2 separate regions of the Homo sapiens genome follow, and region 1 is linked to region 2. A link means that fine-mapping ties the variant in region 2 to the expression of a gene that starts in the linked region. Tissue or cell type: lung. Region 2 holds a variant in brackets; the other region holds the start of a gene. All regions are shown on one strand. Distances are from middle to middle.

Region 1 (4,162 bases), 67 kb after region 2:
CGATGAATAATCCACTCTGAAGACTTCGGCTTTTTTTTTTTTTTTGAGACAGAGTTTTGCCCTTGTTGCCCAGACTGGAGTGCAATGGCACAATCTCGGCTCACTGCAACCTCCGCGCCTGCCCCCAGGTTCAAGCAATTCTCCTGCCTCAGCCTCCCTAATAGCTGGGATTGCAGACACACACCACCACACCTGGGTAATTTTTTGTGTTTTTTTTTAGTAGAGACGGGGTTTCGCCACTTTGGCCAGGCTGGTCTTGAACACTTGACCTCAGGTGATCCACCAGTCTTGGCCTCCCAAAGTGCCAGGATTACAGGCTTGAGCCACTGCGCCCAGCCAGTTTTTGTTTTTTTTGTTTTTGTTGTTTTTTTTGAGACAGAGTCTTGCTCTATCGCCAGGCTGGAGTGCAGTGGCACGATCTCGGCTCACTGCATCCTCTGTCTCCCGGGTTCAAGCGATTCTTCTGCCTCAGCCTCCTGAGTAGCTGAGATTACAGGCACGCACCACCACGCCCGGCTAATTTTTGTATTTTTAGTAGAGACGGGGTTTCACCATGTTGGCCAGGATGGTCTCGACCTCTTGACCTCGTGATCCACCCACCTCGGCCTCCCAAAGTGCTGGGATTACAGGCATGAGCCACCACGCCCGGCCGACTTTGGCTTTCACTCCAGGTGAAATGTGTAGTCCTTGGAGGATTTTTGAGAGGAAAGACATAAATCTGATTTTTTTTTAAAGGATCAACCGAGATACTGTGATGCAAACAGACTAAAAGAGGAAAGAGCAGAAACTACTGCAGTAATTCAAGTACGAGACAACGTAACTTGAACAAGTGAAGGTGATAACAAGAGCCTGGGAGTGTGGACAGATTTTAAAGGTGGAGAGTCCATAGGATTTGCTGATATATATGGAAGAGATTAATCAGGGATGATACCAAAGATTTTCATCTAGACAAATATTTCAGTAGTGACAATGAATGTAAATCCAATAAACCTGCTAGTCAAAAGGCAGACTGGGCTGGGCACGGTGGCTCACACCTGTAGCCCCAGCACTTTGGGAGGCTGAAGCAGGTGGATCACCTGAAGTCAGGCCTTCAAAACCAGTCTGGCCAACATGGCGAAACCCCATCTCTACTACAAATACAAAAAAAAAAAAATTAGCTGGGCATGGTGGCACACACCTGTCATCCCAACTACTCGGGAGGCTGAGGTGGGAGATATGCTTGAACCTGGGAGGCGTGGTTGCAGTGAGCTGAGATTGGGCCACTGCACACCAGCCTTGGGCGACAGAGCAAGACTCCATATCAAAAAAAAAAAAAAAAAAAAAAAGCAGGCTGTCCACTTAGATTAAAAAAAAAACCCAGAGATATGCTGTTTACAACAGTATATAAAATATGAGCATACAGAAAAGTTAAAACTTAAGAATATGAAAAACGTTTGAAGCAAGTATCAAAACACAGCGGCCGTGGCTAAATTAATGCCAGAGAAAAGAAAAGTCTTCTCTCTTCATCTCTACCTCCACTAACTTTCTCTAACAGTTTGGCAATTTGTTAACCCCGTCTTCCTGCCAGGACTGCTTCTCTGAGGATAAGGCTGTCACACCATCATTTGGATCCACCCACAACTTAGAACAGTCCCCATTTGGTAGTAAACACCAAGTAAAAATAGTTACTTTAGGCCGGGCGCGGTGGCTCACGCCTGTAATCCCAGCAGTTTGGGAGGCCGAGGCGGGTGGATCATCTGAGATCAGGAGTTCGAGAGCAGCCTGGCCAACATGGAGAAACCCTGTCTCTACTAAAAATACAAAAATTAGCCGAGCGTGGTGGCACGCGCCTGTAATCCCAGCTACTCGGGAGGCTGAGGCAGCAGAATCGCTTGAACCCAGGAGGCGGAGGTTGCAGTAAGCCGAGATCAGAGATCCGCGCCACTGCAGTCCAGCCTGGGCGACAGAGCAAGACTGTCTCAAAAGAACAAACAGTTACTTTAAGTGCTCTCCACCTATTTAACGTTATTTCTCTGTCATCACCAATGTTAACTGATTCGGAAGGACGAGGCTGTTCCTCTAAGGTGACACCTTGTAAAAGTCGTTGGTCGCCTGTACCATTTTCACCTCTTCCAAAGTGACATGCCAATTCTCTGAGAGAAGCTTAAAATGCTAGAGATCACGTGCGGCTACTCCTAAATAAGGCCTTCCAGGAGGCGCAGGGTGGCCCCAACCCAGCCGGCTGGACCGCCTCCCAGCGCACGGAGCAGGCAACGCCCGGCTCTGGCAATCTGGGAAGATTCCAGGAAAGGAAGAAAAGGCCAAGAGCACTGCAGGGTGACGCACCGGCCAGGAATGCTCGTTCCGAAAGCTCCCCGAACCTCTGAAGCTCACCTGCCCGCGGAGACTCCAGGTGTTCCCAGCAGCAGCCCCTCCAGCCAACTGCCCAGCAGCGAAGCTTGAGGCTCTGGCCGGAAGTGCTGTAGGAAGTCCCGCCTCCACCGGAGTGAGGTACGGCTGCTGGAGCATAGACGAGAATGTCAGCGACAGTATTGGAGGCCAGAGGAGTGGTCAGCCCACCCAAGCCCCGCCTCTGGGCGGGGGCCCAAGCGATTTCCGAGTGCTGAAACCTGGGATGACAGAGCAGCCCAGGGAAAGCGCGTGTTCCAGTTTACTAGATACCACAGAAGTGAGTTACAAATCCTGTAAGAGGTTCAGTTCCATGCGTATTGAGAGTCTACCACGTAGGCAGCATGCGGTGGTCAAAGAGAAGAATATAGTGTTGATACCGCCAAAACTAAAAAAAAAAAAAAAATTACCTAGTTAAAGCATAAGGCAGAATGAAAGTAAATGCAGTGATAGAAAAAATAATAGAAAAAGCAACTATCCTAGACATGTTAATTTCTGTTGAAACCGCCTTTGCAAAATTTTGACAGTAAGAGAAATCTGACATGGTTTACTCCTATCTTGATTCTAGCCTCACAGACTGGCTGTCTTTGCTCATTCCTGGGCACAGGACAAACTAACTTTGGGAGAAATTTAGTTTATAGTTTAAATGATAATAACCCTTCCCCAAAACTGCCCTTTTAAAACTAAATGAAAGGCCACCAAGTTAGGAGAATGAGAGGGTCCTGAATTCTTCTAAGTTGTAATTGTAGTTAAATGATTACCACCCATTATTCCACAGGTCACAAATTCGCATCTTCCCCAATCATTCCTGCAGATAACATCACTGTTGTAGAACCTAAGATTGGCCTTTTGAGATGTCTTTTCAGGTTTTTGCATTTCTGACAAGTGGATGGCCCCACCCTGACTCATCAACCTGGGGATCCACGAACCAACTCAGTGCAAGAGGACAGCTTCTACTTCTTATGATTTCACCTCTGACCCAACCAGTCAGCACTCCCCATTCCCTGGCCCCGTACCTGTCAAACTATCTGAAAAACCCCCTAACCTCTGAGCCTTTGGTGAGATGGATTTGAGTAACAACTCTGTCTCCCACGTGGCATGGCCAGCCTCGCGTCAATTAAACTTTCTTTACTGCAATGCCATGGTTTCTGTCAATTAATTTTGTTTGTGCAGCAGGCAGAAAGAACCCATTGGTGGATACCACAGACTCCACAACAAGAGCAGTTTGGGTAGAGTGAGTGTTAGCATTCCAAAACCAGACTGAAGTGAGGTGAAGTGGAAAGGAAATTGAGGGAGCAAAGCCAAATGACTCTTCCAAGAAGTGACCTTCTAATTGTCATATTAAATGGACACAAACAGTCAGTATCCTGCTGGATGTCTCTACTGTTTTATACTTTGATAGTTCACTCCTTGAAACTAGAAACTAGATATTACAGTGATTGTTTTTTCTTTGGAAGAGGGGATTAAAAACCACATTGGAAATCTGATAAAAGCTATCTACCTACACACAAATTTTGCGTATGATTTCAAGGACTGATTAATCCTTTGAAGCCCATGAATAGGCCTCAAAGGAATCCATGGATCCCAAACTAAGACTCTCCTCAGCAGGGCACGGTGGCTCACACCTATAATCCCAGCATTTTGGGAGGCCGAGGCAAGCAGATCACTTGAGCTCAAGAGTTCAAAACTAGCCTGGGCAATGTGGCGAAACCCTGTCTCTAAAAAAACACAAAAATTAGCCAGGCGTGGTGGTAGGTGCCTGTAGTCCCAGCTA
Region 2 (4,162 bases):
AAATGTAGAGAAGAAATTCCAGTGTCAGAGAGGATTAATTGTTCTAACCTGAAATTCAAAATGTACAATTTGATTACACAGAACAATGTAAAATGCTATGGGGTATCAACCAGACTCGGTTTGTAAATTTTTTTCCTACACCCTGGGTTTTTAATCCCATGTAAAATACTTAGAAACCATAAAGTCCAACTTAGGACATGCAAAGTGAACTCTTTATCCTGTATTCTAATGACTCCATAGTCACCTAATGGTTCTTGAGTACCTACTGCTATGTCAGGTGCTAAATGCGTCTCAGAGGAAAGAGACACGGTCTACTGCCCGGAGTTTAATGAATGAAGACTTTCCGCATTATCACCAGGGTCAAATTATTCATTCTTCAAATTATCTGGTACAGACATAGTCCACATTATACAGGGTTCACAAGTAAATTTTCTAAATGAATTCAAATGAAAATTTCCCAAAGGGAATTACTCAATTTAGAAATTCCATCATTGTTACCACGTTTCTATTGAGAAAGCATACATAGCATATGAAAACTGCTTCACTAAGAATTGACTGAACACTATTGTATCAGGCATTTAGGGGCAAATTACCTGGGCAGGTGGGCTATCAGATACAGCTGATTTTCATCAATTAATTGATTAGAGGAAAGATCTAATAACTTGACTGTCTGGAGAACATCTGTTGGCCTGTATGGAAAATAAAATTTTTTCACCGTGAATTTATCTCTTAATTGTTTTCAAAGATACAGCCTTAAAATCCCTGCATTTGGTGCGATGGAGGGCTGGGGATAAGAAGCAAGTAAATATGACTGTAAAGGGGCAACCTGAGTGGTCCCTGTGGTGATGCACATATTCCTGCCGGTATCAGTGTCACACCTAGCCTGTGATCCTATATCATAGTTTTGCAACTTGTTACCAATGGGGGAACCTGGGTCATGGGTACAAGTGATCTCTGTGTATCATTTCTTATAAAACTTCATGTGAATATATGATTATCTCAAAATAAAAAAATTTAATTTAAAAAACCTGCAGGCCAGGCACGGTGGCTCACACCTGTAATCCCAGCACTTCGGGAGGCCGAGGCGGGTGGATCATCTGAGGTCAGGAGTTCAAGACCAGCCGGGCCAACATGGTGAAACCCCGTCTCTACTAAAAATACAAAAATTAGCCAGGCATGGTGGCACGTGCCTGTAGTCCCAGCTACATGGGAGGCTGAGGCAGGAGAATCACTTGAACCAGGGAGGTGGAGGTTGCAGTGAGCCGAGATGGTGCCATTGCACTCTAGCCTGGGTGACAAGAATGAAACTCTATCTCAAAAAAAAAACAAAACAAAAAACCTGCATTTGCCTACATAATGAAACCCTTCTGTAAACGAAAATCTTTAAGATTCTGAATCCTTTAATTCAGAATCTGTTGTAAATTTTCCCACAGTTAGGTTAATTTTACATAGTAATTTAATATTATTAATTTAAAAAGGAGATGAGGCAACAATATATTTCAGAGAACAAAGTTTTACATGTACTTTGGTACAATGACCTTAAACAGATGATGCTAATGAAAAATACATTATTTAATCCTTATAGCATATCCTACAGAACTTCCATTTAGAAACAGCAAGTTGGCCAGGCACAGTGGCTCACAAGGTCAGGAGTTCGAGACCAGCCTGGCCAAGATGGTGAAACCCCGTAAAAGATGGTGAAACCCCGTCTCTACTAAAAATAAAGAAAATTAGCCGGGCATGGTGGCAGGCACCTATAATCCCAGCTACTCGGGAGGCTGAGGCAGAAGAATCGCTTGAACTCAGGAGGCGGAGGTTACAGTGAGCCAAGATCGCCACTGCACTCCAGCCTGGGCGACAGAGTGAGACTCTGTCTCAAAAAAAGAAAAAGAAAAAAAAGAAACAGCAAGTTAATACACTGATGCAAAACTAATATAACTCATGTCTTCACAAATATTTAATTCTGATGAGTTTCCTTTGATTAGAACCAATTAGTGAAATTCTAATTTGTGAAGGCAATGAATAATAAGCATTTTTCCTAATTCTTGTTTGCAAATCCTTCTAAAAATTAAGGTTAGATATAATTGAGACCATTTATTTACTCAGAATGATGATTAAATGGGGATAGATGCATTTAAGTAAGTGCTAGTTACCTTTCGGAAATGAAAATGTTGTTAGACTCAAGGTAGAGTTCCTCCAGGCCTGGGCACCCCGCGACACACCGCAGCACCTGGAAGAGAAACTCGGTTCAGGCTCAGGCGGCCTCTGCTGGCTGTTTCTTCCCGGGTGTTCATAGGAACCACCACAAGAATTCAGCTCAGTTACTGTTTCAGCAAACAAGTGCCTCACGGACAGTTCATAAGACTGTTTCAGGCCTGGAATAGTGGTGGGGGGTGATAAATAAAATGTTAAGGGGGTGCATTTTAATGCTGTGGGAGCACACACTGTGGGCACTTTGAGGCCTTGGAGGTACGTGTCAATGCATGGTTTAGGTAA[A/C]GCAGCTACGAGGTGGAACAGGAGATACTAACTGCACATATTATTATTTGATAGAATTTGCTTAACCAAAATAAGTAAATTGATGTTACACACCTTTCCTCAATTCTAAATGCCAATCTGGGTTTGTAAAGGATATGCTAATTTTTCATATCCTTTCATAAATTTCTCAACAATTATTTCTTCTTTCATTATTTTTTTAATTATACATTTTTTAAAGTTTTCATTATATATTTATGACAAATATTCTACATCCATGATTCTCTCCAATCAAAAGTTCTTTGAGATCGGGCACAGTGAGTTCATGCCTGTAATCCCAGCACTTTGGGAGGCCAAGGCAGGTGGATCACTTGAGGTCAGGAGTTGGAGACCAGCCTGGCCAACATGATGAAACCCATTACCACTAAAAATACAAAAATGGCCGGGTATGGTTGCACACGCCTGTAATCCCAGCACTTTGGGAGGCTGAGGCAGACAGAATGCTTGAGGTCGGGAGTTTGAGAACAGCCTGGCCAACGTGGTGAAAACCCATCTCTACTAAAAATACAAAAAATTAGCCAGGCGTGGTAGTGCACGTCTGTAATCCCAGCTACTTGGGAGGCTGACGCAGGAGAATCATTTTGGCCCAGGAGGCAGAGGTTGCAGTGAGCCAATATCACACCACTGCACTCCAGCCTAGGCAACAGAGCAAGACTCCATCTCAAAAACCAAATAGTTGAGATGACGCCCTTGGCCATGGCCAATTAGAGAATGGAATCATCTGACTCACCCATCCTGCAAACAGTCCTGCAGATAGCACAGGTTTTAAACTGGCTGTTAAACCTGCCCGTGACCTCACTGGCCTTGGCCACGTTCATCCGCATGGATGTGTGGTCCTTGGCACTGATGATGCAGTTGCTGGTGGAGCATTTCTGCAGCACGCACAGATCCACGAACTTGCTGGCGTCTTTCTGCATGTCGAGACCGTGCCTGCTGCCACCACACTGCGCATGAGCCTAATTTTTTTTTTTTACAAAAAAAAAAATTACAAAAAATTATTATATATTATATAATTATGTATAATAATATATAATATATATATAGCATCTACAGGATCTCTCTATGTTGCCTAGGTGGGTCTTGAACTCCTGGCCTCAAGTGATTCTCCTGCCTGGGCCTCTCAAAGTGCTGGCTGGAATTATAGGCGAGAGCCACCATGACCAGCCTCACCAACTATTTCTAAATTTTCTCACTGGAACTTTACTGCCATCTCCACCACTTCAATTTCTGTGTGCCCTTCCTAGTTTATTTGGAGGGTGAGATGCGTCTTGCTCTGTCACCCAGGCTGGAGTGCAAAGGTGCAATCCTAGCTCACTGCAGCCTCAAACTCCTGGGCTCAAGTGATCCTCCCACCTCAGCCTCCCAAAGCGCTGGGATTGCAGGTGTGAGCCCCAGTGCCAGTGTCTGGCCCCTTCTTGTCTTCCAGCTACATCTACACCTTGAGAGGGAGTAAGCGCCTCACAGAGGAGGGGCCCTAGGAAAGAGGCTCCATGGCCACGGGCATATTAAGGGCACAAGGGGCCCACCTGTCTCTCACTGAGTGGCCTCTGTGGCACTTCCTGGGTGAACATGGCTGGGAATGTATTTCTACACCCTTGGTTTGAAAGTGGAATGCCCAAGCTGGGCACAG

The links. PIP is the estimated chance that this variant, and not a neighbour inherited with it, causes the effect.
Region 1: TBCE starts here. The variant in region 2 is fine-mapped to the expression of TBCE in lung (TOPMed, PIP 0.99).

What each region holds. Positions count from the first base shown.
Region 1 is chr1:235,365,716-235,369,877 of GRCh38, reverse strand. TBCE (tubulin folding cofactor E) reads right to left here and starts at 2,451. Exons shown (of 17, transcript NM_003193.5): 1 at 2,374-2,451. It overlaps LOC124904559 (a long non-coding RNA gene), which reads left to right and starts at 2,458. Exons shown (of 2, transcript XR_007066957.1): 1 at 2,458-2,668; 2 at 3,255-3,525. RefSeq lists enhancers at 2,152-2,491, 2,031-2,744.
Region 2 is chr1:235,432,272-235,436,433 of GRCh38, reverse strand. TBCE (tubulin folding cofactor E) reads right to left here. Exons shown (of 17, transcript NM_003193.5): 8 at 2,154-2,230; 9 at 594-689; 10 at 1-48. It also overlaps the pseudogene RPS21P1. Among named protein-coding and RNA genes, the nearest start is that of TBCE, 67 kb to the right of the region's middle. The variant A/C (reference allele first, on the strand shown) is at 2,497.